Regions from separate parts of the Homo sapiens genome. Here regions 1, 2 and 4 are each reported to be linked to region 3. Evidence: microRNA targets listed by miRTarBase, many of them from high-throughput screens and not tested one by one. Region 3 holds a microRNA gene; each other region holds the end of a gene's coding sequence.
What was found. The annotated mature microRNA hsa-miR-222-3p reads AGCUACAUCUGGCUACUGGGU and lies in region 3 at 3,293-3,313, shown strand. An mRNA with a match to its seed (bases 2 to 7 or 8) in the 3' UTR can be bound and repressed. Matches are read on the target gene's strand: a 7mer-m8 pairs with bases 2 to 8, a 7mer-A1 pairs with bases 2 to 7 and ends in A, and an 8mer does both.

Region 1: the mRNA of SSX2IP is a reported target of hsa-miR-222-3p. The part of its 3' UTR that is shown has no 7-base or 8-base seed match.
Region 2: miRTarBase lists ZNF236 as a target of hsa-miR-222-3p. Seed matches in the 3' UTR shown: 8mer at 4,311-4,318.
Region 4: the mRNA of MDN1 is a reported target of hsa-miR-222-3p. The part of its 3' UTR that is shown has no 7-base or 8-base seed match.

The regions. Positions count from the first base shown.
Region 1 is chr1:84,640,646-84,648,716 of GRCh38, forward strand. SSX2IP (SSX family member 2 interacting protein) reads right to left here. Exons shown (of 14, transcript NM_001166293.2): 14 at 3,061-6,962. The coding sequence ends at 6,788. Among named protein-coding and RNA genes, the nearest start is that of LINC01555, 9.7 kb to the left of the region's middle.
Region 2 is chr18:76,966,853-76,974,923 of GRCh38, forward strand. ZNF236 (zinc finger protein 236) reads left to right here. Exons shown (of 31, transcript NM_001306089.2): 31 at 1,363-6,049. The coding sequence ends at 1,487. Among named protein-coding and RNA genes, the nearest start is that of MBP-AS1, 9.5 kb to the right of the region's middle. RefSeq lists an enhancer at 1-321.
Region 3 is chrX:45,742,278-45,750,348 of GRCh38, reverse strand. MIR222 (microRNA 222) reads left to right here and starts at 3,225; the gene lies at 3,225-3,334. MIR222HG (miR222/221 cluster host gene) reads left to right here. Exons shown (of 2, transcript NR_170290.1): 2 at 1-5,135. It overlaps MIR221 (microRNA 221), which reads left to right and starts at 4,083; the gene lies at 4,083-4,192.
Region 4 is chr6:89,637,570-89,645,436 of GRCh38, forward strand. MDN1 (midasin AAA ATPase 1) reads right to left here. Exons shown (of 102, transcript NM_014611.3): 101 at 7,446-7,588; 102 at 4,929-6,624. The coding sequence ends at 6,436. It overlaps LYRM2 (LYR motif containing 2), which reads right to left and starts at 1,178. Exons shown (of 3, transcript NM_020466.5): 1 at 1,103-1,178; 2 at 173-313. The coding sequence starts at 1,147. MDN1-AS1 (MDN1 antisense RNA 1) reads left to right here and starts at 963. Exons shown (of 4, transcript NR_111915.1): 1 at 963-1,067. RefSeq lists enhancers at 1-1,125, 478-707, 928-977.

The sequences.
Region 1 (8,071 bases), not on the chromosome of region 3:
AGGTCAGGAGTTTGAGACCAGCCTTGCCAACATGGAGAAACCCTGTATCTACTAAAAATACAAAAATTAGCTGGGCATGGTGGTGCATGCATGAAATCCCAGTTACTTGGGAGGCTGAGGCAGAAGAATTGCTTGAACACCGGAGGCAGAGGTTGCAGTAAGCTGAGATCACGCCGCTGCACTCCAGCCTGGGCAACAGAGTAAGACTCTGTCTCAACAACAACAAAAAGCATTTATGAGTTGTTTCCTCAGATATTTGCCCTTGATAAAAATGAAGACAAGTGCTTTGGAAATAAAAAGGCAATGTGATTTTTAAAATTCCAGTTAAAATTTTTCATGGTTTAAGATCAAAATAGCTTCTTTAGAACATATGTACCAAGGCTTTGTGTGGCTAGTTGTTGGATTTCTAGTTTTCTTTGGGGCATTAACACAGAATCTGAAAAACTATTTGTTTGGAAAAGTTTAATTTCACTGAGATCTAATTTATAGAGATTTTCCTTATTTATTTATTTTTTATTTATTTATTTTTGAGACGAAGTCTTGCTCTTGTCCCCCAGGCTGGAGTACAATGGCGTGATCTAGGCTCACTGCAACCTACCCCTCCCGGGTTCAAGCAATTCTTCTGCCTCAGCCTCCCGAGTTGCTGGGATTACAGGCGCCTGCCACCACGCCCGGCTAATTTTTGTATTTTTAGTAGAGATGGGGTTTCACCATGTTGGCCAGGCTGGTTTCAAACTCCTGACCTCAGGTGATCTGCCTGCATTGGTCTCTCAAAGTGTTGGGATTACAGCCGTGAGCCACCACACCCAGCCTTCCTTATTATTTAATACCTCTTTGCTTAAAAGGAATAACATTACAAAACCAAATCAACTAGTTATTAAGGTAAAAGATTTTCAAGATAAAAGAAACTAAAAGTGGCTAGAAATTAAATTGATATTCCACAAAAGCTTTATACTATTGGGTGACTATTTGAAAATTGCATTTCGTTGAGCCTCTTCACTAATTAAAAATGTGAAATACAAGTTTAGTTTGAAATAATAGTTCTGGGCTGAGAATTACAGAAGAAAAAAATCTCAAGGTAGGGTAAATAAATTACAGCATGTTTTAGTCAAGTAAAAACTATACTTACAGGTTAACAAAACCAGCCATAGTAGTCATGGCTAAGCACTAGCAGTCTAATCCTAGGGAACTCAGCTGTCTGATCCTATGCCTGGCTGGGATGAACAATTGACCACCTCGGTTTAGACATCATACATAATAGAAAATTGGATCCAAAAGCCAGAATGGAGGGTAGGTTCTTGTTATCAGTTTTAGGGTTCTAGGGAATATGCAAATGTTTACTTTTTTCTAATGAGTACACTGGGCTGGGGTATGGTTTGGTTTAATAGAACACTGTAAAAAGGAATGAAACTGTCATGACAGACCAGAAACAAGAAAATCTATCTAAATGCAGATGCAACAGAGAAACTAGAAAATATCCAGCTGCCCTACATCAGCCGTTTTCCTTCTAAAACTGAGTAAAAATATTCCTGTTAATTCTACTACTTTATTTTTCATGATAAAATGTCTGCAAAAGGTGACTGAACCTTTTGGACAAAATGAAGTATTTCTGGTCACTGTGACTGTAGCTACAGTTGGGACACGGCACACAAACTGCCAAGAGTGAACAAAATGGCAGGGCAGAAAAATACAGGCTGGCCAGAGGCGGTGGCTCACGTCTGTAATCCCAACCCTTTGGGAGGCCAAGGGGGGCGGATCACTTGAGCCTGGGAGTTCGAGACCAGCCTGTCCAACATGGTGAGACCCCATCTCTATAAAAAATACAAAAAACTAGCCAGGTGTAGTGGCGCACATCTGTAGTCCCAGCTACTTGGAAGCCTGTGGTAGGACTGCCTGAGCCCGGGAGAGCAAGGCTGCAGTGAGGCAAGATGGCACCACTGCACTCCAGCCTGGGTGACACTGTCACACACACACACACACAAATTGCAGGTGATCTAGACATATCTTCAGATTACTCAATGGCCTTTAGAGTATCATAAACTACTAAATTAGCTATTTCAATGAAATCCTTAGTATCTTAATTGCAGAAAGGTAGTGGTCCAACCCTGAATAGATCTGCCATGGTAACCAATCACAAAAAAATGAGGCCAAGTCTTGAACATGGACCAAATGATCACTACTTTTGATGTAGATTATAGGTGGCAGCTAATGGGTGAATAATTTCACTTAGAAAGCCCTACAAGCAGGCACTGCAGCAGTGTGGGAAAAGGTGGAAATTTAGCAAACCTAAGATATGGGTTAAAGTCTGGTCTTATCACTTAACAGCAGTTATGTGACCTTGGGTTCATTATTTAACACTTGAGTCTGTTATCAACTCTAAAAATAGGAAGGTTAAGATTCCCTGACAGTTGAAAAATAAAAGTGTTCTGTGCACTGTAAGATACTTTAATAACTAAATGAGTAAAACTACCATTTGAACATTCAGAAACTTGTATTATAAAAAGGTTAGAAAGTGTGAGGAGCTTTAAAATACATTCCTTCCAAAAATTAAGAATATTTGCTTTAATAATCAGCAATAAACCCCTTGCAGAGTAATATGCATGGACGAAATACCTAGCATCAACTACATTTGATAGCAGATTGTAAGTGCTCACCAAATAGCTACATGTTCTATACCTCCCAGTCTTGTTTGCAGTGAGGCTGTAGGTGGAAGGCATGTCTCTTTCAGGTCTGGCCCTTAAAAATATCCTACACCATCTGCTAGTCTGCTCGCTCTGATTTGGCGATGTTGGAGACCATGCGTCCAGATGGCATAGCTAAAAATGGAGGATTGCCCAGTTGACACTGGACATTTCATGAGCATAAATTTTATTACGCCACACCGACTTAATGTTTAATTGCAGCATAACCTACTCTATCATGATACTCTATATGCAAGGAATTGAGATAGGGTTGGAAGTACACATGCATAGATTCATGACAAGGTTCTTACCCTCTTGAGAAAGAGGAGTTTTAGGATTCTAACCCCAAACTTATAGTCCATTCATTCCAGTAAAAAAATGTGTTGTTTCATCAGTGTATTTCTCATCAACAAATATTATGTGCTGTTAAGCATTATACTAGGTACATGTATTTCTGAAGCTCAAATATATGAATGAGGTGGATCTTTATCAGGAGCTTCATATGTCACTGACATTACAGTACTTCCTGAGCTCTCAGGAATCCATTATTTGTAAATGTTCAAAAAAACCTCAACCAGTCATTTGATTTCATATAAATCAAATAATTTAATCAATATCCACCCACTCTAATTTACATCCAGCTTGAAAAACACTGTATTTAGAAAAAGGATTAGAGTGAGCAATTTCATTATCCTTATCTGCATGGACCAAGTCTTTGGGAATGCTTTTTCTACTAGATAATAATACACGCTCTTGAGGAGAGAAAATCCTACACTGCTTTGCAGGTCAACATTTTGATTGTAGAAAACAAAATCTAGCAAACAATCATCTGTTACATAGTACTTCACAAAGGAAATAATGCTAAGACTTATAAATGGAAGCCTAGCCACGTTACTGTTAAAAAACAAATGTGGCCTGGAGCAGACCCATCAGTCCATGTTTTATGAACAGACTGAATGTGTCCGTAGCATCCACCATTGTTTATTACAATGTAGGTTTAATAGTTGGCCTTCCACTCAGCTCAGATTCCTAATAGCAGGCAGCGTGCTTATCTGTCTTCATATCACCAAGGATTGGAAAGCAGTAGTAAGCCTTGACATACAGCAGGTACTTAATAAATGCTTACCAAAAGACTGAAAAAGGACAAAAATAGGGAAAAGTATATTTACTAGACTTCCATAATCCATACTTACTTTAAATTCAATCTAGAAATAACATGACTCATATTAGGCAATATACTTTGAAGATCTGTACAACATAGTAATCACAGCAGGGTCTTGCTAACTCACAAATTTAGCATACATGCTGCAAAAACCTCTCTCCTGGAGTCCCAAGGGCTTTCAAATGTTCCACCAGGGGCAGTCAAGACTAGATTCACGGTGCTCTCTTCATCATGCGCACAAAATGTGTTTTCCCATAACACCATATTATCACAAGTCTATGAACAATTCTGGTTAGCTAAGGTAGGCAGTATAGAACTCTTTACAAATAACAGTATTTCAATTATGCCATGTAAGTAAACAATTTGCTGTGAACTGTCCTGTGTATCTAATCATTTAATACATTGCTTCTATAAGAAAATACTATTTGTTAAATTTTAGTCATAATTTCATTGTTTCTCATCATAGACTGCAGATGCAAACATTTAATGGTGAACAAAATGTTTATCTCAATTTTTCTTTGACATTTTTATGCTTTGAAAATTCAGAATGGATAAAAACAAATGAAGTACAAAATATTTCAGATTTACATAGTGATAAACAAGAAAGCACTTATCAGGAGGACTTACAAATGGAAGTACACTCTAGAACCATCATCTATCATGGCTAAATGTGAGATTAGCACAGCTGTATTATTTGTACATTGCAAACACCTAGAAAGAGATGGGAAACAAAATCCCAGGAGTTTTGTGTGTGGAGTCCTGGGTTTTCCAACAGACATCATTCCAGCATTCTGAGATTAGGGTGATTGGGGATCATTCTGGAGTTGGAATGTTCAACAAAAGTGATGTTGTTAGGTAAAATGTACAACTTCTGGATCTATGCAGACATTGAAGGTGCAATGAGTCTGGCTTTTACTCTGCTGTTTCTTTCACACTTTAGATTTTAAAAGTACGTCTCAAGGAATCTTTCTTTCCAATTTGAGAACTCAACTCACTTTAAAATGGAAACACGCAACAAAAAACAGATGCTGCTTTCTAGAACTCCATTGTCATGAAATATAATATTTGCTAAAATAAGAGATTTACTTTAAAAATTAGAGTGCTTATTTCTTGCAAAGTACACCATGGAAAACCCTCGGGGGAAAATTGTTGCCAAATGTATCCATTAACTGTATTTAAAATTTCTGATTGCCTTTTTGACCATGTTATTGCTAAATAGCAAAACAAACAAAAACAAAAACAACAAAAATCCTATATCCCAGCTAGATTTCTTCCTTTAGCATATGGTAGTGTCTTCGATATTTTGTACAATGTGTAGTATTTTAAATAGTAAAGAAGTGACCATGCATCAAGCTGAAGGTAGTGACTAATGCTCAAGAGCTAGCTCTTTAAAACTATAAATATGGTTACTATGAGTATATCCACTAATGTCTCATAAGACACTCTTAATGATATCCTATCAGCCCTGAAAAAATGGCTGCTGCTATGCAACTCCAAAGAGTTACATAGTTACGTATAGTGAATGGACAACACAAATAGGTGGGTTTTTTTTGTTTTTTAATAATATGAATTTAAAATAGCCACAAACAGGGTGAGTGCATGTAAGCGGCTGAACTGCCAGTACAGGGGAAGGTAAATGGGCCTAAACTATGATACCTAGCAAGGGTTGGATCTGTGCAGGCTTCTATGTACAGAGACAAGCAGGGTTAGGCACTTAAAGCTTTTTGATGAAAATCCTGGGAAAGAGCTGAGCCTACATTTATTATTATTACTATCAAAACAACAACATACTTTTCATGAAGAAACATGCAATCAGAAACATTACAGAGACTGAAGAGAGCTTAAGAGTTTTCTGAAAATGAAATGACATGTTTTTCCAGAGTATCATCTCAATTATAAAATTTGATGGTTTTATATTATCATATTTCTTCAGTGGTAAATACCTCATTAAAAAATTATTAAAAAATTATTGACAATACAAAGCCCTAGTTAGTATACAGATATTACTATACTGGTACCCATCTTGTAAGGAAAATATCACCATCTAGATATCTTAAATATCTTCTATCATCCAATATCTTAAACCAATTTCTTAAATTGTTTTATTCAAAGGTACTTTTGTCGTCTTGCCCCTATTCTTCTATCATCAATAGTCCTTTTAAAAATTATAATATTCTACATATACAAAATAAAAATCTAATGTCATAAAAATCTCAAAAATGTAATGTTAGTAGTGTTGATTATCTAAAGAACTCAGCTTCATGGAATACCTTTCAATATTTATTGCCCAGATGTATTAAAGAGAATTCTTAAATGTAATGCATCAATGGTCCTAATACATCTGTAAACAGAATACCACTAAAAAAATTTTACTGGCATGAAATACTATACTTATGGTTGTGTGAAACTTTTAAATCTTAAAGCCTCTTAACATAATCATGTGTATCTATGTACAAAACATACATAAATTTCACTTTATTTAAAACATATGAAAGAGGTAATTTCAAACCACACTAAACATAATAAATATAGAACTCGCTTTGTTAAAAATCTACAGTATACATTCAAGTAAAGGCTAAACTTCCAATGCCAACTATATTTGAGACAAAATTAAACATTTACAATAATCAGTTTCCTAAAAGTGCTATTTTTAATACCTATAAGAGGAAACTCAGTCTAGTGCTTTTGTTTCCATCCAAACATCTATACATTCCTTTATTCACAGAACCAGATGCTTCTGTTACTAAAAATACATATCCAAAGCTTTTATATCCTTTTAAATAGATTTAAGATTTCAACTCTTTGGGGGAAGACAGGGAAGTCCAAACAAACAACTCAGACCATCTTAAGTTATTAGAGATAACTGACTTTATGACACACCCTGTTTCAACTTAGATGTGAAACTTGATGAACACATTAATGAAAAAAATTCCAGTCCACATGTCTAAGGTAAGTCATCTTTTTCTACATGAGAATTTGTGTAGCTCAAGGAGCATCCACTATAGCAACCTTCCTGTGATCCAGGTCTTGATGCCACACTCCATTTTTGATTTGTACATTCTCCTCCAACCTGATTTGGTTTAATTTCTTCAGCAGTTATATTCAGTACATTGATTGAACTGTTGGGAAAAGAAAGGCAGATCTTAGTGACTATCCTCTCCTTCTTTTGTACTTTAACCTCATAATGTGGCACTCTTCAAAAAAAATAAGTTCCTTTTAATTCTAAAAATCTAGGCCAAAAATATAATTTAAAATTTTACTTGGAAAAAAAAAACGGCTGGGAGCAGTAGCTCACACTTGTAATCCTAGCACTTTGGGAGGCTGAGGCAGCCGAACTGCTTGAGCCCAGGAATTCAGGACTAGCCTGAGTAACATGGTGAAACCCTGTCTCTACAAAAAATTAGCTGGGAGTAGTAGTGCATGCCTAGTTTAATCATTTGTACAAGGGATTCTGATGACCAAATTACTATAAATTTATTTACCAATACTTATAGTAATTCGGTCATCAGAATCCCTGTACAAATGATCAAACTAAGTTTTTTAGGTAACTTACGCACAAGTCTCCTTGCCTGGAATCTAAGGCACAGCCTTTATATAAAATTCCATTCTACAGTGAAGGAACAATGAGGATGTTGTAGAAATTAGCTACAAATACTCCTAATTATTTTGTTGCAATATTAATATAAACCGAGATCCAAAATGCTTCAGGAGCAAGAGAACCAAGTTTATCAAATAATTTAAAATGTGAAGAACCAAGTCAGGCTGCACAGCTTCTCTATTAGTTATAAAACTTTTTTCTGTTTGTTTTATTCTTAGAGGCTAGTTAACAATGAATACCTTGAATTTCTTTAAGCTCCAAAATTGTTTCTATGCCACGGATGTTGTTTAGTGGAGCACTCAGAAACAAAAAAAGCATGTTTATATTTGTTTACATATATTTTTATTTTTATAGTCTGTCACTAAATGTTTTTAAGTGCTTTACATACATTAACATTTAACTTGCAACACCCTATGATTTAGGTACTAAATGCTGAACTTTATTAAACATAAAACAATGTCTTCAAGAAATGTTTATGTCAAATATTTCACAACTAAAAATGATGTAAAAAGCTAAATATTTAAAATATATAAAAACAATTGAGACAACTATGTTATGCTATCTCTTAGATATAAAATGCATTATTTGTGAATGGTGGCTAGAATTTGTGTCTATATCTATACAGATAGT
Region 2 (8,071 bases), not on the chromosome of region 3:
AGACTAGGTTTCAGAGGGTGGCAGTAGCTATGCAAGGAACTAGAAATGTTAAAGTCTGAGTAGACCCCTTGGTGTGCTCCATGCATTTTGCGGGTGTGATTTGATTGTTCGAGGTGGTATGCTCTGTGAGATCTGTGGTTTGTTTGGTTGTTGGAGGTGATGTGATTCGTGAAATGTGTTATTTGGTTGTTGGAGGTGATGTGATTCGTGAGATGTGTTATTTGGTTGTTGGAGGTGATGTGATTCGTGAGATGTGTTATTTGGTTGTTGGAGGTGATGTGATTCGTGAGATGTGTTATTTGGTTGTTGGAGGTGATGTGATTCGTGAGATGTGTTATTTGGTTGTTGGAGGTGATGTGATTCGTGAGATGTGTTATTTGGTTGTTGGAGGTGATGTGATTCGTGAGATGTGTTATTTGTGATTTGGTGTTAGGGGTGGTGATGTGATCTGTGAGATTTTTGTTTTGTTGTTGGAGGTGGTGTGATCTGTGACATTTGTGATTTGTTGTTGGAGGTGGTGTGATCTGTGAGATTTGTGATTTGGTTGTTGGAGGTGGTGTGATCTGTGAGGTTTGTGATTTGTTGTTGGAGGTGGTGTGCTCTGTGAGATTTGTGATTTGGTGTTAGGGGTGGTGATGTGATCTGTGAGATTTGTGATTTGGTGTTGGAGGTGGTGGTGTGATCTGTGAGATTTGTGATTTGGTGTTGGAGGTGGTGTGATCTGTGAGATTTGTGATTTGGTTGTTGGAGGTGGTGTGATCTGTGAGGTTTGTGATTTGTTGTTGGAGGTGGTGTGATCTCTGAGATTTGTGATTTGGTGTTGGAGGTGGTGTGATCTGTGAGATTTGTGATTTGGTGTTGGAGGTGGTGGTGTGCTCTGTGAGGCTTGCAGGTGTTCTTTGGTTGTTTGAGGTGCGGTACTTTGTGAGGGGAGCTCGACGGCTTTCAGTGTAGGGAACCCGAGGGCAGAACACTATATTGTGGGGAGTTTTTGAGGAAGGAAAAAGGGGTAATTTTTTCTCTTTAACGTCTACACTGTAGTGCTTCCTGCTTTCCTTTTTATTATGGAAATCATGTGTGTTGGTTATTGCTCATTCCTGATGCTGTGTTAATGTAGCTGTCATAGGAGTGCACTCATATCACCAGTGCTGTGTGTGCGTTCATACTCCTAACAGTAACTACTGTCCTGCCGGCAGAGGTGTTTCACCTGCAGCTCAAATTACTCTTTTTTCACTGGAATGAAAAGCAAATTACTTTAGAAATTCCTTGTCTCTTTCTACCAGAAAGTCTTTATTTAAATAGGAATCATTTTGTGCTCTGGAAGGTCTGAGGCTGCTTGTGTTTTCTTTGTCTGCATAACAGGAGCTCTGCAGGAGTCTGCAGGTCACCCGGAGCAGGACGGGGAGGAGCTGAGCCGGACCCTCCACCTGGAGGAGGTGGTGCAGGAGGCCGCCGGCGAGTGGCAGGCCCTCACCCACGTCTTCTGATGCGAGTTGGAAGTACACCTTTAAGAATGTTTCTGAAGTTACGTTTTGTGAAGAGCAAAGCACTTGGAATCTCCGTTTTAAAGCTTCAAGTGTTAAAAATGCTACAATAGTTTTTTATCTATAAAATTATCTAAAGAATCATTGTCTTTCAGAGACTCATAGGAAAAAAAAACTAGGAAAAGTGTCACCGCATTGTTCTCTTTTGTCTACAAATCACTGAACTCAGGTACTACTGTAGGCAGTTTCCTCCTCAGTCTCCTCCGTGGCTAGTGTGTCTAGTTCACGAAGCAATTAACTGGGTCTTACTATCATTGTAGTGTGATTTCTTTGTATTAGCAAAGACAAAAACGCTAACATTGAAAAAGTATGTCAGATTTTCCTTCATGTTTCTGGTTATAAGAAGCATAGCTTACAAAGCAAGCGTAAGATTGAGGCATGAAGTTCAGAAAAAAAAGTGTTACAACACACAGGGAAGTTTTTTCCACTCTTTTCTCTGTGCATTTTGAAAATTAGTCAAAATGGACTCTTTTCAGTCTACCATAAGTTAATATAACTGATACCTTGAGAGATGGCTGGACCAATTCTCTCCATGACAAATGTTTAATCATTAGTTACAAGAATGCAGTATCTGGGGCGTCAACATGGGGACTCGAGTAAACCTGACCCACCAATAAGGATTCAGCTGTCCACACGGGCTGGCGACACACTTACCGCATCAATCTGTGTTCAGGTCCAGGGTTACATAATTGCAGAAGCACAAGCCATACATCGCAGGTAGGAAACCACAGAACCGTCTGCAAGGAGCAAGCAACGGTGGCCCTGTCCACCCCAGCAAATAAGAAGCATATCTGTAGCTTAAGGCCACGAATCCGTAAAAACCCCATGACTTTCTCTTCGTGCATAAACAGATGTATTTTTGATTTCAGGGAATTCTTTAGTATCGTCAATGGTGCCACATAAAACATGTCCCAAACCAAATCCCACCCGTGCTGGGCAGAGTGCGTGCACGCCATTCCTACAGCATTCCAAAGATGGAAGGTTCTTTACTTCATGTTAATTTTTCCTTTGAAATTATTTATATGTTCTATATATAAATACATATGTACATAGATATATGGGCCTCTGTGTGGCTGAACAGTATATTTTGTAAATATAAGTACTAGTCCTAATTGCAGAAAGAGCGTCAGTTTCACCTCCCCACGAGCACTTCAGATCAGTATTGTATTCATTTTATTCATAAATGGATATCTTTTTCATTGTCATATAAAGCTGGGTTTTATTTTTTTTTCCTGAAAAATAATTGCCTTTATTTTCTCTCGTTGCCTCCTTGGTTTCAGAAGAGAGTAGTTTTATTATAAATATTGTATGGACTTTGTATATTAAGAGAGGAGCTCATTTCAGATTCCTAAAGAAATAGACATTTTACTGTTATTTTGAAAGGGCATCTTTTGATTTTTTTGTTGTTGTTGTTCACTTTTGGCATATGTATATAAGTAATATTGACGGTGATATGAAAACTTTTGTTATGTGAAGATATTTAAGTCAGAAAATTGTTAAATAATATTACTTCTTTTCCAAACTGCTTTGTGTATTGTATATTTTTTTAAGAAAAAGAAAAGCCTTATTTGACTTATGCTTGTGATACTGGACTTCTTACCAATCCGGAGGTTTCCTTCCTTGAATGTCAGTGTGTAAACCTGGCTGTAGCCGCATATGCAGAATAACTGTAATTGTGCTAGAGTTTTAAAGGTTCTGCTTTTAATGCACTTTTTATTTTATAATTTTGTATTGAAATATTTTAGAAATGTTGATTAATTTTGGTGAAAAAATATCCCCAAAGTGGAAATTATTGGAATTTTAAACTTTTGTTCTTGCTGGGTTATTTATTTTGATTTTAGCATTAAATGTCATCTCAGGACATCTCTAAAAGGGGTTGTTTAATTCCTAATTGTATAGAAAGCTAGTTTGGTGAATTGTATTGGTTAATTGACTGTTTAAGGCCTTAACAGGTGAATCTAGAGCCTACTTTTATTTTGGTTAAAGAAAAAGAAAATATCAATAATTCAATTTTGTGTCTTTTCTCAATTTATTAGCAAACACAAGACATTTTATGTATTATTTCGATTTACTTCCTAATTATAAAAGCTGCTTTTTTGCAGAACATTCCTTGAAAATATAAGGTTTTGAAAAGACATAATTTTACTTGAATCTTTGTGGGGTACAGGTTGATCTTTATATTTTACTGGTTGTTTTAAAAATTCTAGAAAAGAGATTTCTAGGCCTCATGTATAACCAGGGTTTTGAGGATAAAGAACTGTATTTTTAGAACTATCTCATCATAGCATATCTGCTTTGGAATAACTATAAATAAAAGATGAAGTTAGGAAATGTGATTAATTTTTTTCGTTTGAAAATATTTAAGATAAAACAGTTTGGCATGTAAATTAATTTCAAGTTCAGATATTTTTAAGAGAAAACTTTAGTGGTATTTTCCTTTACCTCTGTGAAGTTCAGAGGCGTTTACCCCTGCAGTGTCCACTGGAAAGGCTTCAGACTTTCAAAATCAGGGCATGGCTCCGCGACAGCGAGCCGTGGGCGTCAGCACAGTGCCCTGTGCATGTGTCAGAACTGTTCCTGTTCCCTTTCATTTGCTGCTTTATTCAACGGCACCCAGTCATTGAGGAACCTTTTGAAAGTTCCTAAGTGTTTTGATCCTGCTTGTGTGCTCAAGTAACCATGAAGCACTGAAGCTGAAAGAATGAATTGCCTTTGCAAAGATACCAAACGTGAAGGTGGGGTGCAGGTACTGAGGAAGCAGGAGGCATGTAGCATGTGTGGAGTCCCACCTGCTAGATAATGCCCAAGCGGCTGCGTTTCCATAGAATGGCAATAGATGAAAATGAAGACATGTTTTCAAACATGCAGATTGAAATGCTACCCCACCCCCATCAAGCTCTACTTTTTCCCCTTTGAAAAACTTGAGGCACTTAGAAAGTATCTAAATAGAGGAAATGCTATGACATGGCATCTGACAGCTTGCAGCCAGGTCAGTGGGAGGCTCATCAAATGCCACTCTCCTCTTCCTGACAGTGTTCTGCTGGTGGGACATGAACATCAGTGCTTGTCTGGCACTTAACTAGGGGATGTTTCCTTCGTGCATATTTTCTACTCCCCTGTTGTAATATTTTAAGGAAACTTGATCTTTGAAATTATAGCTAGTGTTCTGTGTCTTCCTTTGAACTCATATCACATTTATTACAAGAGACGCATGTGTTAGCACAGCTACACAATTTTTAGAAGTAGAAGTGGATTTCTTGTCTTGCTGTGGGTTTTCCTCATTTTAGAAGAATATTTGTAACTCATTAAGATACACATTTTAACATGAAATGACCATCACACAGATTTATGTTTGGAAATATTCAAGATAAAATAGTTTGGCATGTAAATCAATTTCAAGATTTATGTACATAAGATTTTTAAAGGAAATAGGTAAGATATATAGAACTGCTTTCTAGTGTATATTAAGGCTATCTCATGCCTGCTTCTTACATTTTTTTCTGAAGCTTATTTCAGAATTAATACCGTGCCCTTCCCTGACTAAAAAAAGTTAATCCAAGGATTGATCGTTGCGAATGTATCCCTTTTCCAAGACCTACTGCATAGGAAGTAAGTGAGGCAGAGATGAGATTATGCGGCGGATACTTCTGAAGGAAGCGTTCTTTTTGTGTCACTTAATCTGTGTTCACGTAACTTAGGCACTTTGGATTTTTTAGAATGAAATTTCAAAAGCGCCTACACGCACCACCCAATTTAATGTCGTATCTGTACTTGGGGCCTCTACACCTTTCCCATATTCTAATGAAAAGATCGTACGCCAAAGGCCACTGAGCTGGCATCTTCTTCATTGTGGAGAAAGTGGGAACCACAGAGCTTTTCGTGGGCCAGATGCCCACATATTCCTAGCAGAGACATGTTCTTTGTCATGGTGTGGCTTGCCACAACATGTCCTGTTTGGTGGCTGGCCCTCTCCGAACGGATTCCCCTCCTCAGACCCCCATGCACGGATGAGCACATAGCTCACCCTCACCCTCACACACTCACCCACACACTCACCCTCACACTCACCCACACACCCTCACACTCACCCTCCCTACACAGGCATCGGGGCAGTTCTTTATATGGATGACTAACAACTAAGAAAAAATGAAGATTAGTATGAATGGCAGGAGCAACAGGCAGTCAGAAGAGATTTTTCTATTTAATCTTTTATGTGTAACACTTTACAGCATGAAGACGTATTCTATCAATATTTGTATCATAATTGACAAATTCTCAAGTGACATAGGGATTTGTTCTTGATTCACCACTAAAGAAAATTTTTAAAGTTAATTTTTTTTAATTACAGAAGAATTCTCTTTTTATCTTCACAATTGTTTCATGATCTATTTATACATTGGATGATATTTATTTAATCCAGTTTTGTATTAGAAATGGATAGTGATGCCAAAAGCCACCGTGCTGGCTTTAAAAATAATAAAAATAGTTTTTGTATTATTTTAAAACTCCTGTATATTTACTTCTTTGGGTTTTGGGTGAGTTGTCACTGTTTAAAGGCGGACACTTCCTCTAGGTCACGTTTGCCATGGCTTAACACAATAGAGCAATGCTGAGTTGGCAACATATTCAAGCCCAGAGCATTTAAATCCTGGAGGATGTCCCAGATTCCTGCTCTCTGCTTTCTCTCGTTTGAAAGGTATTAAAGTGACTTGAAATGCCGTGCGCATCCATCATAATATCAGTGTGTCTGTTTATGAGAGATGCCAGATCCTGGACTTCCCAGAAGCATCCATGGAGTTATTTTATGTCGTCGGGCTCTTTGTAAAGATATATTCATCTATTTTACTATGCCTTACATTTCCAAACTGTTAGAGAAGTTGGTAATTGAGAGAGTCATCATCCTGTTGAAACAAGAGATTTCAATATACGTTTTCTTGGCACTGAGTAGGGACTCCACGTAGTTTTGGACTGAAAAAATTAAAGTGATGTTGACTTCCTGAATTTGGCTAAGAGGGAATGGTTAAGAAATTGCTTTACTGTTCTTTTCGCTTCTTTCTTTCGTTGTAGGAGGCATATTGCTCTGATAGATTTTGAAATAGAGTGGGTGAGGGAAGCGCTTTGGATCCCACTACGATGGATCATCTCAACTATTGGCAGTGCTTTTCCAGGTGAGTTTTGCCCAGAGGCTGGACTCCCTGTGATAGCGAATAGAGTGCTGTCCCTTAAGCACAAGCAAAGGCTTGTACCTGCAAGTGTGCTGTGCGCTCTCAATGCTGCGAGGGAGGTGGCGTGGGCCCCACTCAGACGAACTCTGCCTCTGACGGCTGCCTGTCCCTGGGCCAGCCAGTCACATTCTCTAGACCTGGCTCCTCGTCCCTGGGGTTAGTTGATTGAATTTCTTTCTTTCCAGCTCTGCCTTCTACTTCTATTCTCAGTTAACCGACCACATGGTATTGGGAATCACTCTCCATGGGCCCCTTGCATTTCTTTGTGTTATATCCACATGCTCTTGTTGGGCTGTTTGTACAGAGCGCAGCCTGGGGAGATGGCGATGGCCTCTTTCTCCAGCACGAAGGGACGTTTGCTTACTGATCAGTGTAATCAAGACACTGTTGCCCTCCGTACCAAAGGCCAGGCAGGTGCACTTCAAGTGACCCCCCTGTCTTGGCCTCCTGAGCAGCTGAAAGTCCGCTCCTCAAGCTCAGGCCCCTCCGCCACCACACCACCCACTGTGTGTGCAGGCATCTCCTGGCCCACTTTGCGTCCCACTTCGGGGCTGGGGGCTCAGATGTTCAAACAAATGCTGACCCTCTGGCTACTGCTCCTGTTACTGTGACTGAAATCCCCTTTGTCACCCCGGAGCCCACGTCCTCTGCCAGCAGCCAGGAGGCTGGCAGGCTGTCCTGAAAGGAAAGTGGGGAGAACCTGCGATGCTTCATGGCTGCTGACACCGTGGTCAGCCCTGGCTCAGCCTACAATATGCCTGGAAGTTGTTAAAATAAATGTTACTGATTATTCCTCACTGCCCACAGTGCTGCCCCCATCATTGAGGACCTTCTCTTGTGACCTGGCACCTTTGAAACATTCAATCCCTTAAGGCACTACAGAAAGAATGACAGATGACACAGTGCACATCCACGGAGACGCCTCACACGCCCCTTCTACCAATTAACAGATGCTTCCCCAGTGTTGTTATTCTGGGCCAATGAAGAGAGTTTTACGTTACTATTTTAGTAATTAGAACAAAGAGATCATTGGTTACCTTGGTAACCAAGCTCTATAAGAAAAATTCTTACATTTAACGTGAGACAGCTCACTTTGATGTTATCTCAGCCAGTTTTTTAGTAGTTCTGGGTAGAGATGGACAACAACTGGCCATCTACCTTGAGATGCTCCTTTTATTTTTGAGTTAGGCTCTTACTTTGTCACCCAGGCTGGAGTGCAGATCATGGCTCACTGCAGCCTCGACCTCCTGGATTCAGTGATCCTCCTACCTCAGCCTGCCGAGTAGCTGGGACTACCGGTGC
Region 3 (8,071 bases):
CCTTTGGTTTTGTGTCTGTGTTTGTGTATATGTTAAGAATCACTTAACATGAGATATACACTGTGGGTGGCAGTTTTTGTTCACTTCTAAAGTAAACTCTGACTTCATTAGAATAGTGGACTGGCTTATGCTCTGTCAAATCCCTAAACATGATTGTGATAGAATTTGACTCTATTCCTATTTAGTTACAGAAAACTACTGGTGCATGAACAAAAATATGTGAAATATCATGGATGGGGTTTAGGGGGACATGTGGGGCCAGACTTTGTGAGGTTATAGAAAATCATGGAACTGGAAAGCATCTGGAAGTTCTTTTACTCAAAGAAGCATAGATTCTTTCACATTTGTGTTAAAAACAGTGAATTAGACAATTTTGACTTGGTAAAGTTAGCATTCTGGCAATGCTGTGAAATCGTTCATCTCTCTTCATTTACTTCCACATATAGTCCCTAGGGTCAAAATTTCTTTCTAAAAATGATAATTTCTAAAGTCAGAGATGCTTTTTGGGGGCAAAATAGAATTGTCCAGGTAATCAGTTTAAAAGACAGAGTAATTCTACTCTTCCTTCAGTAGAATGACGCACGAAGCAGCATTTCTTTCATTTCCAGTAGAACTTTGATGCGAATGTGACTTTTATCTCTCTCAGTGTAGCTTTAAACATCAATGGGTTTCTTTACTTCTTGGTTTGGTGTATAGGTTGCCCCTGTTCTAACCGTGTGGAGTGTAAGCTCTTCAAATTCTAGGTTAACATTTCAAGAAATGGTCTTTATCCCAGTTCAAAGCAGGCCTTCCAACAGCAGGTGGCAGGCTTAACTTTTAATAGTCTTTCCCTCCCTTTAAACTCTTTCTCATACCTCAAATAAATGGTCTTTAGCCAGAATGTATGGGAGTTTTTGTTTATTATTATTTTTGTTTTGTTTGTTTGCAGTGTGACTAGGACTTGAGCAGAAGTACCTTGGTTACAGTCCTATCACTCACCCTTGGGGCTTAGTTGTCATCTTAATTGTTAGATAACAGAATTATATAACTCAACATTTCTAGTTTGAACCTATTTCTTTTCTTTTCCTTTTATTTTTAAACTGAAAATGCATTATTGGTTAATATTCTATGGTGTTATATATTCTACATATTCTATTCTTTGTGTTTTTAATAAACTTAAAACTGTATAGTATTGTTTAGTGGTTGACACTAATTTACAGAATAACCTTTAATAAAATTTTATTTACAGATTTTCCTATTTGTATTACCTAGATTAAATTTAAAACAAGGGGCAAAAGACCACCTTAACTTTAGTACTAAGATGTGGAGAATAGATACCTTTGAGAATTAAAAATTTACCTTTTCTCATCTAAATGTAAAGATTTATAAAAGATAATCTTTTGTATTTTGGCATTGAAAGTGACCACACTAAACCCTTGCCTCACTTTAATTGTTAGTCTTATTCATAAAAGTAGAGTTATGAACAGTTAGTTTTAGTGGTTTATGAAATGTAAGTTTGTGTGTTCTACAAATGCTTTATTTTACATTGAGGGTAAGACTTAGCCAAACCTATATAAACGGTCTTTTCCCCCACTTCAGTATGTATGCTCTGGTTTGTAGGCAGTGCCAAAATATACTTCATAGATGGGATTGGCCTTAACTTATTTAAAGAGAAAAAAAAGCAAGCAATCAAAAAAACCCCTGCTTCACCTTGTAAATTCCACCCTTATCCTCCCCCACCAAGAGCTAACCACACTGGTGAAGCACTATTACTATAATTTGGCAAGTGAGTTGCCTCTTAAAATTAGACATCTGTGATTAAATAGTTAAATCATTCCCTAGATATGTATATATTTAGAGCTCCCAGAAAGCTGGTTATCTTTTCTTATAGCTAACACATTTTTAAAAAGCCACTTTTCTCTTGGTGATAAATATGTGTGTGTCATACTGTGGTATAGCTGCATGTCCGATCAAATGGTACTAGTTTCCAATTGACAGTAGCTTTATTAAATCTTTTCTAAGTGATAGCTGAAGCATTTTAAATTCACAGCAAAGGATTCTAAGACGTGTACTTGGAGAAAAGTTGCATAGTCATTTACCTTCTAGAATAATCCTAAAAGTAGGAAACAATAATTGGCCATGTGGTCATGTGCTAATAAAAGAACACCTTGTCCAAGATACCAGGCTTTTTCCTGTTTCAGTGCTTTTTGTTCTGACTCTTGCCTCTCCCTGTGGTGTCCTTTCCCACCCCAGGTATGTACATGATTCTTCTCCTCCTACTTCAGGAATCCACTCAAATGCCAGGCCCTCAGTGAGGCTTTTCCTAGCCACCTTATCGAAAATAGCATTCCTCTTAACTGTTTCATTACTCTATGAAATGACCGTCCATATCTATGGAGGTTTTTTTCAGTCTTTTTCTACCCTTTCCTTAAATCTTAGACTTAAACTTCCGTGAGTGCAAGGATTTTGTTCAGTGTTGCATTCCCAGTGCCTGGAATAAAGCACGCAGAAGTATTTCAGTAAGGTACTGAAAGGTACTTATTGAAGGTACTCAGTAAGTATTTCTGGGGTGGATAAATGAATAGCAAAGAGAACACCAATCCTGTGACTTATTTTGTTACCTTCATTGTATCATGGGAGGAAAGCTTGGAACTGACATGCTAGTGAGCACCTGCTTTGAATATTTATTATAATATGCATTTTCTGTAATTTTCTTTGGTGTTTGAGATATTTGGTAAAATAACTGTATTATCCTCAGTTCGTAACACGAAAGAATTTTTTAACTGCAATTTACTTTACATATGTGCATCATTGCTAGATTACCCAAGTTAAAGTGACAGGAAGCAACAAAAATGCTCCAAGCCACAATAAAATGGTAGATTGGTTTTTTGTTTGCTTGTTTGTTTTTCTCTTGTGTATATTTCCATTTTACTGCAAAACATACCAAATAATTGATTGTAGATTTTGTCACAAGGAATCATGTATGCTGTAGAAGTATAGAGATTTTCCACTTTTTTTGTTTGCTGCTGGATCTCCAGCACCTAAGAAAATATGTGGCACTTTATTTAATGTCACTCAGTCAGTATCTGTTGGATAAGTAAATAAATCCAGAGGTTGTTTAAAATTACGTACATGGGAATATTGTCAAAATGTCAATTCATGATCCAAAGAAAATGTGCAATTGAAATCTGATATCTTCTTTTTTCTTCCACAGAGCCCCTCCCCAGAAGGCAAAGGATCACCCAGCTGCTGGAAGGTGTAGGTACCCTCAATGGCTCAGTAGCCAGTGTAGATCCTGTCTTTCGTAATCAGCAGCTACATCTGGCTACTGGGTCTCTGATGGCATCTTCTAGCTTCTGCTTCAGTGTCCTGAGAGAGATTATTGGGCAGTCTTTAATAATGAAAACTTTACCTTGAATTACACACACACACACACACACACACACACACACACACACACACTCACACACACACTCACACACACACAAAGAGAGAGAGAGAGAGAGAGAGAGAGAGACAGAGAGAGAGGAGAGAGTCAAGTTCTAGGGTGTTAAGTCCAACATTATCAGCTGGGGCTTGGGAACCTTCAAGGTTTTATGAATGATGAGGTCTATTTGCTTTCAATACTACAAGGGGGAGGAATCTGGATATTTATCCATGTTTTAGCTCTTACCTGTTTTTGTTTTACCTCTTTTTTTCTCTTTCCCCCCTATGAAAGGTATCATTTGGATAGATCAATCTATTCATCTATCTACCTACCTACCTATCTACCCCTACCCATCCACCCATTTATCCATCCACCCATCCATCCATCCATCCACCCACCTGCCCACGTACCTACCAGTTTATCTATCCGACCTTCCTTCCATCCAGCTTTTTCATCTCTTGACTTTTAGATGGCATTTTCAACATGATGTCATGATTAAATGATGACAACTTGATGATATGATGGTTTAAGGAAATTTTGTTGGTAGTAGGTAAGTCCCAGCATTTCTGACTGTTGGTTTTCTTTTCCTTGTGGTAGAAAAGACAAATGCCAATTTTGAAATCTTGAATGCAGTAGGCAGTTGTGTTGAAATAGTATGTGAGAATTACTTGCAAGCTGAACATCCAGGTCTGGGGCATGAACCTGGCATACAATGTAGATTTCTGTGTTCGTTAGGCAACAGCTACATTGTCTGCTGGGTTTCAGGCTACCTGGAAACATGTTCTCCATTGGCTGTCTCACCAATGCTACCCCTATAATGTTTCTGAATAACTGTTTTCCAGGAGGTATAAACCAGTGGAGTTTATCATTGAATAGAGTGCAGAGAAAGGACCGCAAGAAAGCTGATCACCTCAGCAATGAATGATTTCAATACGATTTCACCCAAATGGTCTCACACACCAGCCTAGTAAACCAGAGATAAGGTGTAATGTCATCCTTCCTTCCTTCTCCCTGCCTCAACTGTCAAAGATTGACAACTTACATGTTGTTTACTTTTTGGCTTCTATTTCTGTTCATAATTATTATCAGAAGGCATAGCACCCACAAGCCTAATCATACTGCCTTACAACCTTATTCCTCTTCATTTTGTCTTCTCACTTACCTGCAGAAACCCAGTTTATTTTTGTTCTCCCTTTACCACACCAGCCTTGTAACTGTTATGAATGACCCTCAATCTCACTGGAATCTGAATCACTCAGGAATTCAAGCAAACTGGATGTTTTAACCACTGTTCAGCTTTCTTATGGAATGACAGAGAACTTGTAAAGATAAAACACCAGTTTGCAGGAAGAAAGGAAGAGAATGGAAATTGCTTCTGGAAAATACTAGTTTTACAATATGTTTTGTTTGTCTGCTCTCTTAAATAAACTTAATCCTATAAACATTTTTTAAGAACTAGCCATTAAGACTGTTAAGTTCTCAATTATAAAGGAATAAAATGTTTTAAGGAGGATTTATTTGCCCTTGCTTATATGAACTGCATATTTTTAGTAGGAAATCATGTAATTTAAATTAGTATTGGTTAACAGATTTAACGTAGAAAATGGACATATAAAGAATACAAGGATAAATGTCTACATGTAATAATGGATGGTAGTGATATAATGCATTTTTGTCATCCCATGCTGAATTCAGTAAAAATAAAGCTAATGACTTGGAGCTTTTAAAAGATTGTACTGTTCTCTGTGTGTGTCTTTTGGCTTCCTACTCACCAATCAGTTCTATTATCTATTCTGTACCTGAGCCACTGGCTTTTGTGACCCGGGAAGAGAAAGTAATTCCACTTAAGACGTTTGACAGGCTTTTAAGAGAAATAAGTGGCTCTGTGCAACATGGTTATGTTTAATAAATCATAATTACCAAAGGGACAGTTTCTCTTCTCCCATGTCCACTCATACTTTTTTTTTTTTTTTTTTAAAGAGATGAGTTCTCATTCTGTCATTCAGGCTGGAGTGCACTGGTACAGAACTCTTGGGCTCAAGTGATCCTCTCGCCTCAGCCTCCAAAAGTGCTGGGATTACAGGCTTGAACCACCATGCCCAGTCCTCCACTCCTTACTTCTGATGTTCTTTGAGTCCCTTTGCCTATCATTAAATGAGAAGGTGTTGACAGTGGTGCCAGGTGTGAAGAACTCCCTAATTCCATTGATAAGTTTACATTTCCCTCTCAGGTACAAGTATTGGGTTGATCCTCAAAGCAAGATTGAATGTTGTGATAATATAATAAGAAAAAGACATATTTGGTCTTCACCCTCAGTTCCTGGAACAGAGCTGCTAAAACTGTCATAATTTTCTAACTAATAGAGGTGATAGCATCTTTTGTTAAAGTATTTGGTCTTAGTCCCCTGTTCCTGACACAAGAGCTTCTAAGATCCTTGGACTCTCTGGAGTGATGAGTGTCTTTCTGTATGCTAACAAGATAATGAGATGACTTGGCTTAGCGGGGAGTAGAGGTGGTGGCAAGTTAGCTTCAGGATGAAGGCTGGTTGTCAGAAAGACCAAGGTATGATTAGAGGGTTGGAGCTTTCAACATTCAATCCCACCCCTGACCTCTGACAACTGAGTTGATCACTGTCTTAGTCCATTCATGCTGGTATAACAAAGTACCCGCGACTGGGTAATTTATAATGAACAGTAATTTATTTTCTTATAGTCCTAGAAGCTGGGAAGTCCAAGGCCAAGGCCTTGGCACTCAGTGTTGGGTGAGGGCCTTCTTACTGCTTCTTCATATGATGATGAACGGGCAAAAAGAAGATGAATGCTGTGTCTTCACATAGGAGAAGAGAAAGAACACACTCCGTCAAGCCCCTTTTAAAGAGCCTAATCCCATCAGTGAGGCCTCTTCCCTTGTAACCTAATCACCTCTTAAAGCCTGTACCTCTTAATACTATCACACTGATGACTAAGGTTCAACATATGAACTTCGGAGGACACAATCAGACCATAGTGTCTGGCTCCTGGCCCCCCAAATTTATGTTCTTACGTATGAAATATATTCATTCCATCTCAGTAGCCCCAGAGATCTTAACTTGTTCCAGCATCAACTCAAAAGTCTAGAATCTCATGTAAATCAGATATGAGTGAGACTGAAGGTAAGGTTCATTCTGAGACAAATTGCTTTTGTGCTGTGAACCTATAAGGTCAAACAAGTTATATACTTCCAAAATACAATGGTGGAACAACCATAGGATAGACATTTCCATTCCAAAACAAAGCAATAGGAAAGAAAGAAGGAATAACAGGTCCTAAGTAAGTGCTAAAACCAACAAGGTAAACAACATTAAATCTTAAGGCTTGAGAATAATCTAGACACACTGGAGTGGAGGTTAAGCCCCCAAGGCCATAGGGGGCCTCAGCCCCATGGTTTTGTTGGGCATATTCTATACAGCACCTCGCAAGTTGGAGTTGGGTGTCTGCAGCTCTCCCAGGCTAGGATCACACTCCAGTGGCTCTGCAGTACTGGAGTCTCAGAGGCAGTCCCAATCTTATGGCTACCCTGGGCATTGTCCCACTGGGGAGTCTGGTGGCACTATCCCTGTCTCAGTTCTCTGTGTTGGTCCTGAGGCTCTCCAAGTCATCCATTGAAACCTACGTGGAATTAGTCATTCCTCCACAGCTCTTGCGCTCTGTGTGTCTGCAGAGTTATAATGTGGACACTGGGGGCACTAGCCACACCTAGGCATAACCACAGCTGAGGTGGGTGAGGAGTGCTACACTGGAGTAAATGGAGCAGAGATGAGGCATCACTGGGCAGTGAACGCAGAGGTTCTTCGGTTACCCTAAGCCCCTAGTTTTAGTTATGTGCCCCAGGCCTTGGCACTCCGGGCTTGTCATGAGAAAGGCAGCACCAATAGTCTCTGATATGCCTTCAGGGTGTTTTTTGTTTTGTTTTGTTTTGTTTTGAGACAAAGTCTCACTCTGTCACCCAGGCTGGAGTGCAGCGGGACGATCTCAGCTCACTGCAACCTCCACCTCCCAGGTTCAAGTGGTTCTCCCACCTCACCCTCTCCAGCAGCTGGGATTACAGGTGTGCACCACCACCCAGCTAATTTTTGTATTTTTAGTAGCGATGGGGTTTCACCGTGTTCAGGGTCACTTTTCATTGTCTTGATGAACAGTGTATGACTTTCTTCTATCCATACTAATCTCCTTGCAAATGGTCACTTCTTCACACCCCTGGTGTTTTCTTCCAAATGCTTTTGCACTTGGCCAGGCTGAGAATGTTCCAAACCTTTAAATTCTGCTTCCCCTTTGATTTTATTATTTATTATTATTTGAGACAGGTTCTTGCTGTGTTGCCCAGGCTGGAGTGCAGTGGTGAGATTTTAGCCCTCTGCAGCCTTGACCACCCAGGCTTAAGTGATCCTCCCACCTCAGCTTCCCGAGTAGCTGGGAGTACAGGCATGTGCCACCACACCTGGCTAATTTTTTGTATTTTTGGTAGAGACAGGGTTTCACCATGTTGCCCAGGCTGGTCTCAAACTCCTGAGCTCAATAGATCCACCCACCCTTGGCCTCACAAAGTGCTGGAATTACAGGCATGAGCCACCATGCCTGGCCACTCCTCTGAGTTTAAATTCCATCTTCACTATATTTCTCTCCTGCA
Region 4 (7,867 bases), not on the chromosome of region 3:
TAAAATACTAAATTTTAAAATAATAATTTAAAATCGGTAACATTACAAGCAATGATCAAGATATACCAGCTCAGTGGCACTATATTCCAAGATGTCTGCTAAACTTAAAAAAAAAAATTCACTGATCAATAAAAAGGGTTAGGATCTGTCCTCACCATGATTTTGTTCTCACCTCTTCGGTGGCACTTTTGTTTCTTCTGAATTCTTCTCTTGCCCAATCTTTCAGGTATTTGCGATCAGAATCATTTGGAACTTGCCGAATTGTTTGCAAAATCCTTCTGTAGAGGAGAAGAACTTGTTGCCTTCTTACGAACTGTAAAAGGGAGGAGTAAATAGCAATTACTACTGCACAATCGCCAGCCTGGAAAGTTCTACTTCAGCAAACCAAGCTGTAACCAGAGTACTTCTCGTTGGTCAATTTTGAAAAAGGCAAAGAAAAACTTTTTTTTTTCTTTTTTTGGCCAGATGCAGTGGCTCAGGCCTGTAATCCCAGCACTTTGGGAGGCCAAGATGGGAGGATCACTTGAGCCCAGGAGGTCTAAGCTGAGGTAAGCCTTCATTGCGCTACTGCACTCAGCCTGGGCGAGAGTGAGGCCCTGTCTCAAAAAGATGTTTTAAAGAAAGCATCACGAGGTTCATCTGATCTTTTTGCTTACTGCTCTGTCAAACCTAAGAACCATTAAAAAATCAGGAGCTGCCTACCGGGCTGAAAAGGGCTGCCGGTCTCCTAGAAGTTGTTATTACAACGACAGCACTTTTTCTAAATTAACAGTTGTTCAAATCTTTGGTAATCTCATTTGCTGTTTGCCACAGCTCAGTGCAATAGACTTTTACCGTGGGCACTGGGCAGCTGAGGCACCGGGACTCAGGGAAATCAAGCGCCTGACGCTGTCTCACGCGATCGCACCAAACCAAGGAAGCAGCCAGTGCCTCCCGTCAGGCCCCGCGGAGCGAAGCACCGCCCCGCAGGCATCGGGCCAATCTCAGAGGGCGCGCACGCCGCATCAGGACCCCGGAACCCGCCCCGTTGGGGATAGGGACAGATGGAGAATCCAGCTCAGACCCAGGTAAGCTGCTTTGGAAGGCAGAGAACCGCCGGTACCTGCTTTAACGTTAGCGTCGCTGGGGGTAAGCGGGAAGCAGCCATGTCCACCAGAGGTCCGCCGGAGCCTCAGCGCGCAGGAGCGGAAGTGGGGTTCGACCAAGGGGTGTGGCGAGCCCGGTTTCCTAGGAGACGGCCCGCGGGTTGCTCTCGGACTGAGAGCGCGAGGCTTCGGGACTGAGCCCTAGCTGCTGCGCTGGCCGAAGTTTTCTCGTCGGTAAAATAGGATAACAGTGCACCATAGGGTCGTTTTGATAAAGAAGAAAGGTAGGGCACTTAACACAGTTCCTGGTAAAGAGAGTTCAAATGAAAGTGAAGGAGGCCGGGCGCGGTGGCTCTCACCTGCAGTCCCAAGCACTCTGGGAGGCCTGTAAGGTGCCTGTAATCCCAGCTCCTCGGGATGCTGAGGCAGGAGAATCGCTTGAACCCGAGAAGTGAAGGTTGCAGTGATCCGAGATCGCACCACTGCACTCCATCCTGGGCGACAGAGCGAGACCCTGTCTCGAAAAAAAAGTTAAGGTTTTTTTGGGGGAAAGAGGTGAAAACGTATTTAAATGTTCTTTCGAGCCTTTAAAAATGTGTATAGTTGAAAATACTAAAATTGAAAGTGTTAATTTCTTTTACAGTTTGTGTTGGTTTTTTCTCTTTCTCGTTTTTGTCCTGTTCTTTTGTAGCGCAAAGGTTTTCCGGGAGCGGTGGCCTTCATGATCATTTGAAACAAAGCTTTGAATGGCTCACCCACTTCAGTCTTAAGCACTTTTCATCACTAATAACGAGGAGCCTAACATCCCTAAGCCTCAGGCTTTTGCTTTTATTTCCTTATAGTTGTTTTATCTTTCCCACAATACACATGCCTTTGGGTTAAATCACTAGAAGTGGAGTTAGCGAATCTTTGCCATATTAATTTTCCAAGTGGTGTTGTATCGAATTAAAATAGAACGAAAAATGTTCAATTACTAGTTTACTGGGGACTTGCTTGCCTCGCCTGTTAGCATCCTGGGGCTCCCTATTCCTAGCTGTGTTCTGGCTATTTCCCCTCTCCTGGCCTATTACCTCCCCTGTAAAGTGAAATATAGCATCTACCTCAGTTGTGTATCTCTAATGTACTGAGAACAGGTCCTGGCACATGTAAGAACTCTAATCATTAGCTCTTTTGAACTTTACCAGGCATTGTATGAATGATGCTAACTGCATGATCATATTATCAATAATATATGCCAAATTTTGTCTAATACATTAGCTGTAATAGTTAATTGCTAACTTTTTAAAAGGAGTGAAGTTAAATACCCCTCGCCATTTTTAGTTATACTGTTTTTGTGAATTGTTCATGACTTGGGTCCGTTTATGATGAGGACATTTATATGGGCTCTATATTTTTTGTCATTTCTTTATACATACAGAAACTTTATACAATCATGTATTTTTGTGCCTTTTGAGGCTTTTCATTTCCCATTCAGGCCTTTGTAATTCGTTTTTTAAAAACTTTAATTTTTAAAATATTTACTCCATCTAGAATTTACTTTGGTTTACAGCATCACGTGGATCTAAGTTCTTTTCTAGATGTTAAGCTGTATCAATACCATTGATTACATAACTCATTCCTTTTTCGGGGCTTTATGATGGATGCCTTTTTGACTGTATGATAAATTCTTTTAGGGTCTGAGTAATCTGTCCAGAATTGTTTCATTTAGGGTTAAGTTTTTACTTTTTGTTTTATATGTTTTTATTATCTGGCAGGACTCTAGTTTCTTGTAAAAAATCCATTAGTACTGTTCTCTATAATCTTTAGAAATGTTTTGTATCATTTCCCTCCAAATCATCTTGTGATCTTGGTTGGAATTTTGAAGTAGTGTTGAATCTATACATTAATATGTGAGAAAGACATTTTTACATTATTTCTTCTTCCCATCAAGAAACACTCAGGCCAGGTGCGGTGGCTCATGCCTATAATCCCAACACTTTGGGATACCGAGGTGGATCACCTGAGGTCAGGAGTTCGAGACCAGCCTGGCCAACATGGTGAAACCTCGTCTCTACTAAAATACAAAAAATTAGCCGGGCCTGGTGGCGCACGCCTGTGGTCCCAGCTACTTGGGAGGCTCAGGCAGGAGAATCGCTTGAACCTGGGAGACGGAGGTTGCAGTGAGCCGAGATTGCGCCATTGCACTCCAGCCTGGGCAACAAGAGCAAAGCTCTATTTAAAAAAAAAAAAAAAAAAAAAAAAGGGCTCACTCTTGCTAGACACTGGTAATGCTGTCGTGAGTCACATATGCTCCTTGCTCAAAGACTCATGCTTTGGGCAGGAAAACCTCTAAGTTCAATATAGTGCTAACAAAGAATGCTGCAGTTCATACTGTGGGAAATTATTCTTCCTGGAGGGCTTGTCTGAGCTAGGTATTTGTCAGAAACGCAGAATCACTAAGAGGATTCCAGACAACACATGGAAACACTGGCAGGAATGCTGGGAGAGGAGGGACAGGAGAGTCAAGCAAGAGCCTCACAGGTCACATGAAGAAGCTTGAATATTACCCTCTTCACAAGGGAGAGCTTTGAAGGGATTTTCAGCTACAGAACTTTTAGAAAGATCTTGGATGTTGTGAATAGGATGAAGTGAAGCAAGCAAAGAGAAGTTACTGGCCTGGCCAGGATACCATTGAAGTAGTCCCTGCTAGAGATTAAAAGAGTCCCAGTCACAGTGCAGTAGGGGGAGGGGGAGGGATGGGACAGGATATCCAGAAGCCTGACTGGACAAGATGATTAATTAATTTGATTGGGGTATGGATAGAGATGGAGAAGGAAGTAAAGCAGATGTATAGGTTAAGTCCCAAGTTTGTAAACAGGGTGGCTGTTGGAGTGGTCATCCCAGATGGGGAATGTTGAAGGAATGGGTTTGGAATAGGGGAATTAGAACACAGTGACATCCAGCAGATGTCTGAATATAATTAAGAATACCAAAGAGTAGATTTCCTGGACCCCTGGATGGAGAATTTTACAGTCCTTTTGCTTCAGTGATGGTGGAGGCCACGGGAGTGGTGAAGAAGTTATCCAAAGTGAGATTTTATTGTTGTTGTTGAGATAGAGTCTTGCTCTGTTGCCCAGGCTGGAGTGCAGTGGCACAATCTCAGTTCACTGCAACCTCCACCTCCTGGTTCAAGCAGTTCTCCTGCCTCAGCCTCCCAAGTAGCTTGGGATTACAGGTGCGCGTCACCACACCCAGCTAATTTTCTGTATTTTTAGTAGAGATGGGGTTTCACCATATGGGCCAGCCTGGTCTCAAACTAACTCCTAACCTTAAGTGATCCACCCACCTTGGCCTCCCAAAGTGCTGGGATTATAGGCGTGAGCCACTGCACCCAGCCCCAAAGTGAGATTTTTAAGACAGCATGGAGGACTTTTGTGTTCTGCTGTCCATTCCTTAAATATCAGAACTTACTTACTTACCTATTTGGCCAAGGCCTGGGGGGTTGGGGGAGGGGGGGGTGGGCAGGATAGCACAAATGTCAACTATCAACATGGCAGATTAATTGATCACTACTCCTGCAAGCCCCTGTTGGCAGCACAAGTTGAAAATGGCACTCTTGGGTTCCTGCTTCCTGGAATTCCTACTGTCCATGATCTCATGAGCTAACCCAGGGCCAAGGGAATCACTCTGGGCACACCAGTTTGAGGTCTAAGAAAGATGGAGCTTCCAAAGGCAGATGTAATAGACTGCAGCATTGTCATAATATTGGTGTCTTTCCCTCCCAGACTCAACCCTACTGGAAGATTAAACTCCCTGCCCCATAGAGGGCTTTAGCCAATGAAATGTGAGTGGGATGCAACATCATCATTTATGGAGGATAATTAATTTTTATAAGCCTCCTTATAAGGCTACACCAACTCATCCTTTTCATTCTGCTGCAAAGCCAGCATATTATAGCTCAGCCTACCATGGACATAAATGCAAATGATAACCTTTGTAGTAAGAGCAACATGGAAGTAGGAGGGGATCATGTTAGCACAGCATCAACTAGTAACAGCTGACTGACTGATCCAGCAGAGAAGATCAGTCCCCTAGCATACCTTTTACAATCCTGTCATCTTCCATTAAGAAGAGTCACAAATTACATCAACAACAGTGGTATATGTTTTAATAGTTTTCAGAATATAAGCTGCATAGCTTTTTAGAATAAAAAATGATATAACTTCAGGTACATGCTTTGGGACACTTGGTTAAACAAGGAATCTGTGTCTTTGATGACCACCTCAAAAGGGTCGCAGACTTCACAGTGTAACTTGGAAACAGACAAGGAGATAGATGATTACATCATGACATACTGCCTACAAAAGAACATTCTGACAGAACATTAAGTAGAACAGAGCACACAGTTTCAAGTATTCAGCACTGCTTTCTGGCCAAGTAAAAACTGCCTAAAGATCAGTTTCTTTCGACTGGAAAAAATAGATGGAGCTGCTGAGTTCTGGACACAGCGTTTCTTTCCCAGAATGAGACTGGCTCAGTCCAGCTTGAAAGCAGTGTGAGGAATCACTCTTCCCCTTGACTGTTAAGAAAAAAAAAAATGAACTAAACAAATAAATTACTACAACAACAGGGACCATGGCACTGAATGAAATAAAGGGGCAATCACCTTCCCATCATTGCATAGTCTCCCGAAGCAGCAAGTGTGAAAGAGGATACTGAAAAGCCACTTCATTTTTACACAGCCCAAGGATCGTTTTTATAGATGACCTGGGCACCTATAATGTCCAGTTGCTTTATGAGAACACACACACACCACATTCTTCCTACCCTCTAAGAGAAGGTAGTTCCTTTCACAATAAGAAAACACACCCTCATACTCTCCAGAAACGAGCTGTCTTGGCCACTTGACAGCTTTTGGGCACACACTATGGGCTTGGCAAGGCAGAGCTTAGAACAGGGTCAAAAGGGCAGCTCCCTTTAGTCCTTTATACAAAGGACTGTCAGAGTCCCATGCTCCTGGCAGCATCTCCTCAAGGCACAGGTGCCCAGATCCCCTGCAAAAGAAAACAGGCAGCTGGGCTCCAACGGTGGGGTATGACCTCCTCCCAGGCCAGGGCTTCCAAGGCAGGGAAGAAGGATAACTCTTCTCTAGTTACGAGTTCAGGCACCTGCTGCTGCTTCCAGGTTTGGTATAAAAACCTCAGCCCAGGCAAAGCCGGGAGCCAGAGAGCATTCTGTAGGCTGTAAGATCACGTTGTAAAATAAAAATATTACAATAAAATTTTTTGTAGTTGTCCAAAAGGGAGCACCTGGGTAAGCAATGTGACCTTCTGACCACAGTTAAGTCTCACTTTGGACTCTTCTTTCTGTTCTATGGGTGGTCAGAGGCTGTCACCAACTCAAACCACTGTCTGAGGGCATCGCTGAGTGTCTCAGGAAGTGCGTTTACATCTCGAAGAATGATATAGTATGGGAATGGGAACTCTTCCATGTAGGATCGGATTTCAGGCATCTCTCCAGGTCCTTTAAATATCGGTACTTTAATGTCCAAGATAGAATCCTGTCAACAAAAGACATTTTGAAATGGGGAGGCAGCGATTAAACCAGCATCCTTAGCTAGCTCTTCTGTGATCTCTTTTGCTAACTTTTACATCTCCTGTGTCTTATTCCTGCATATGAACCTACCTTTTATTACTAAGTAAAAGAGAATTTTCAGAACTCTACTAAGAAGGAGGTAGATGTCTTTCTGAGTGCCCCTTCCAGGAGGATGGACACTGAAAAAAAGGAAAAGGGATAGACAGGAAAATCTGCTTTCCCTACAGTGGTGTCTCCCCATCATCCACTTGGAATCATTCACACTAAATCTTTACCTTCCTATCAAGGCCTTAATGTGACCCACAGAGACAATGCTTCCCTGGAACAGAACTGCCCTATAGGCATATTTCACTAAGATGATTGATGCTTCTTGCTGTGAGGAGCTACTGAGACATAAGTTAAGTGTGGCAACACCTAATCTCCATTTCAAAGTGGTCAGTACCCATTATCAAGGCTGCAATACCTGCACTGACTTTGCATAGAGGGAAATGATGACCCACAGAGGATGGTCATTCTGAATCTTGGCTCTCCCACTCATTACCTATAACCTCTATGTGTTTCAGTTCCTTCAGTGTAAAGTGGGAATAATGATCCCTACCTCACTGGCTTATTGCAAAGATTAATAGAGAAAATACTTACAAGTGCCTACAATGGTACTTGACAGAATACTATGAATGCTGGGAGTTCTCAGTATGACTGAGTGATCCAGGCCATATTTCAGATTGAACAGGTTGAAGGGAATCCCCACTTTACCTCCAGAAAAGGTGGCTTTTAGTAGTCACTCACCCGTGAACTGGGATTGTCCAATACAACAAAGATGACAAAGATATTTGCATTCCGGGCAGCCTGAACTGCTGCCAGGACTCTTTCTTTGCCCTCAAGGAAAAGGCCTCGCCCATCAGAGACTACCAGGAGGAGTTGTGCAGTTTCTGTAGACCATATAAGACGAAGCAAGGGAATAAAATGAACAGCCATTTTTAATAACTCACAACTACCCAAAGTAGGACAAATTAGTGTAGGCTTTCTCTGTACTATTAAAGCTAAACAGACCTCTAAAGCTGATGAATTCTGGGCACAAACCTAAGGGACCTCTGATGAGATCTATCCCTTAGAATGCTTGAGTCAGAGACAAGGCATAATAAGGGATACTAAGTAAGCTTCTGTCAGTATAGAAGAATTTCTCAATAGTGCTTCAAGAAATGTTAAGT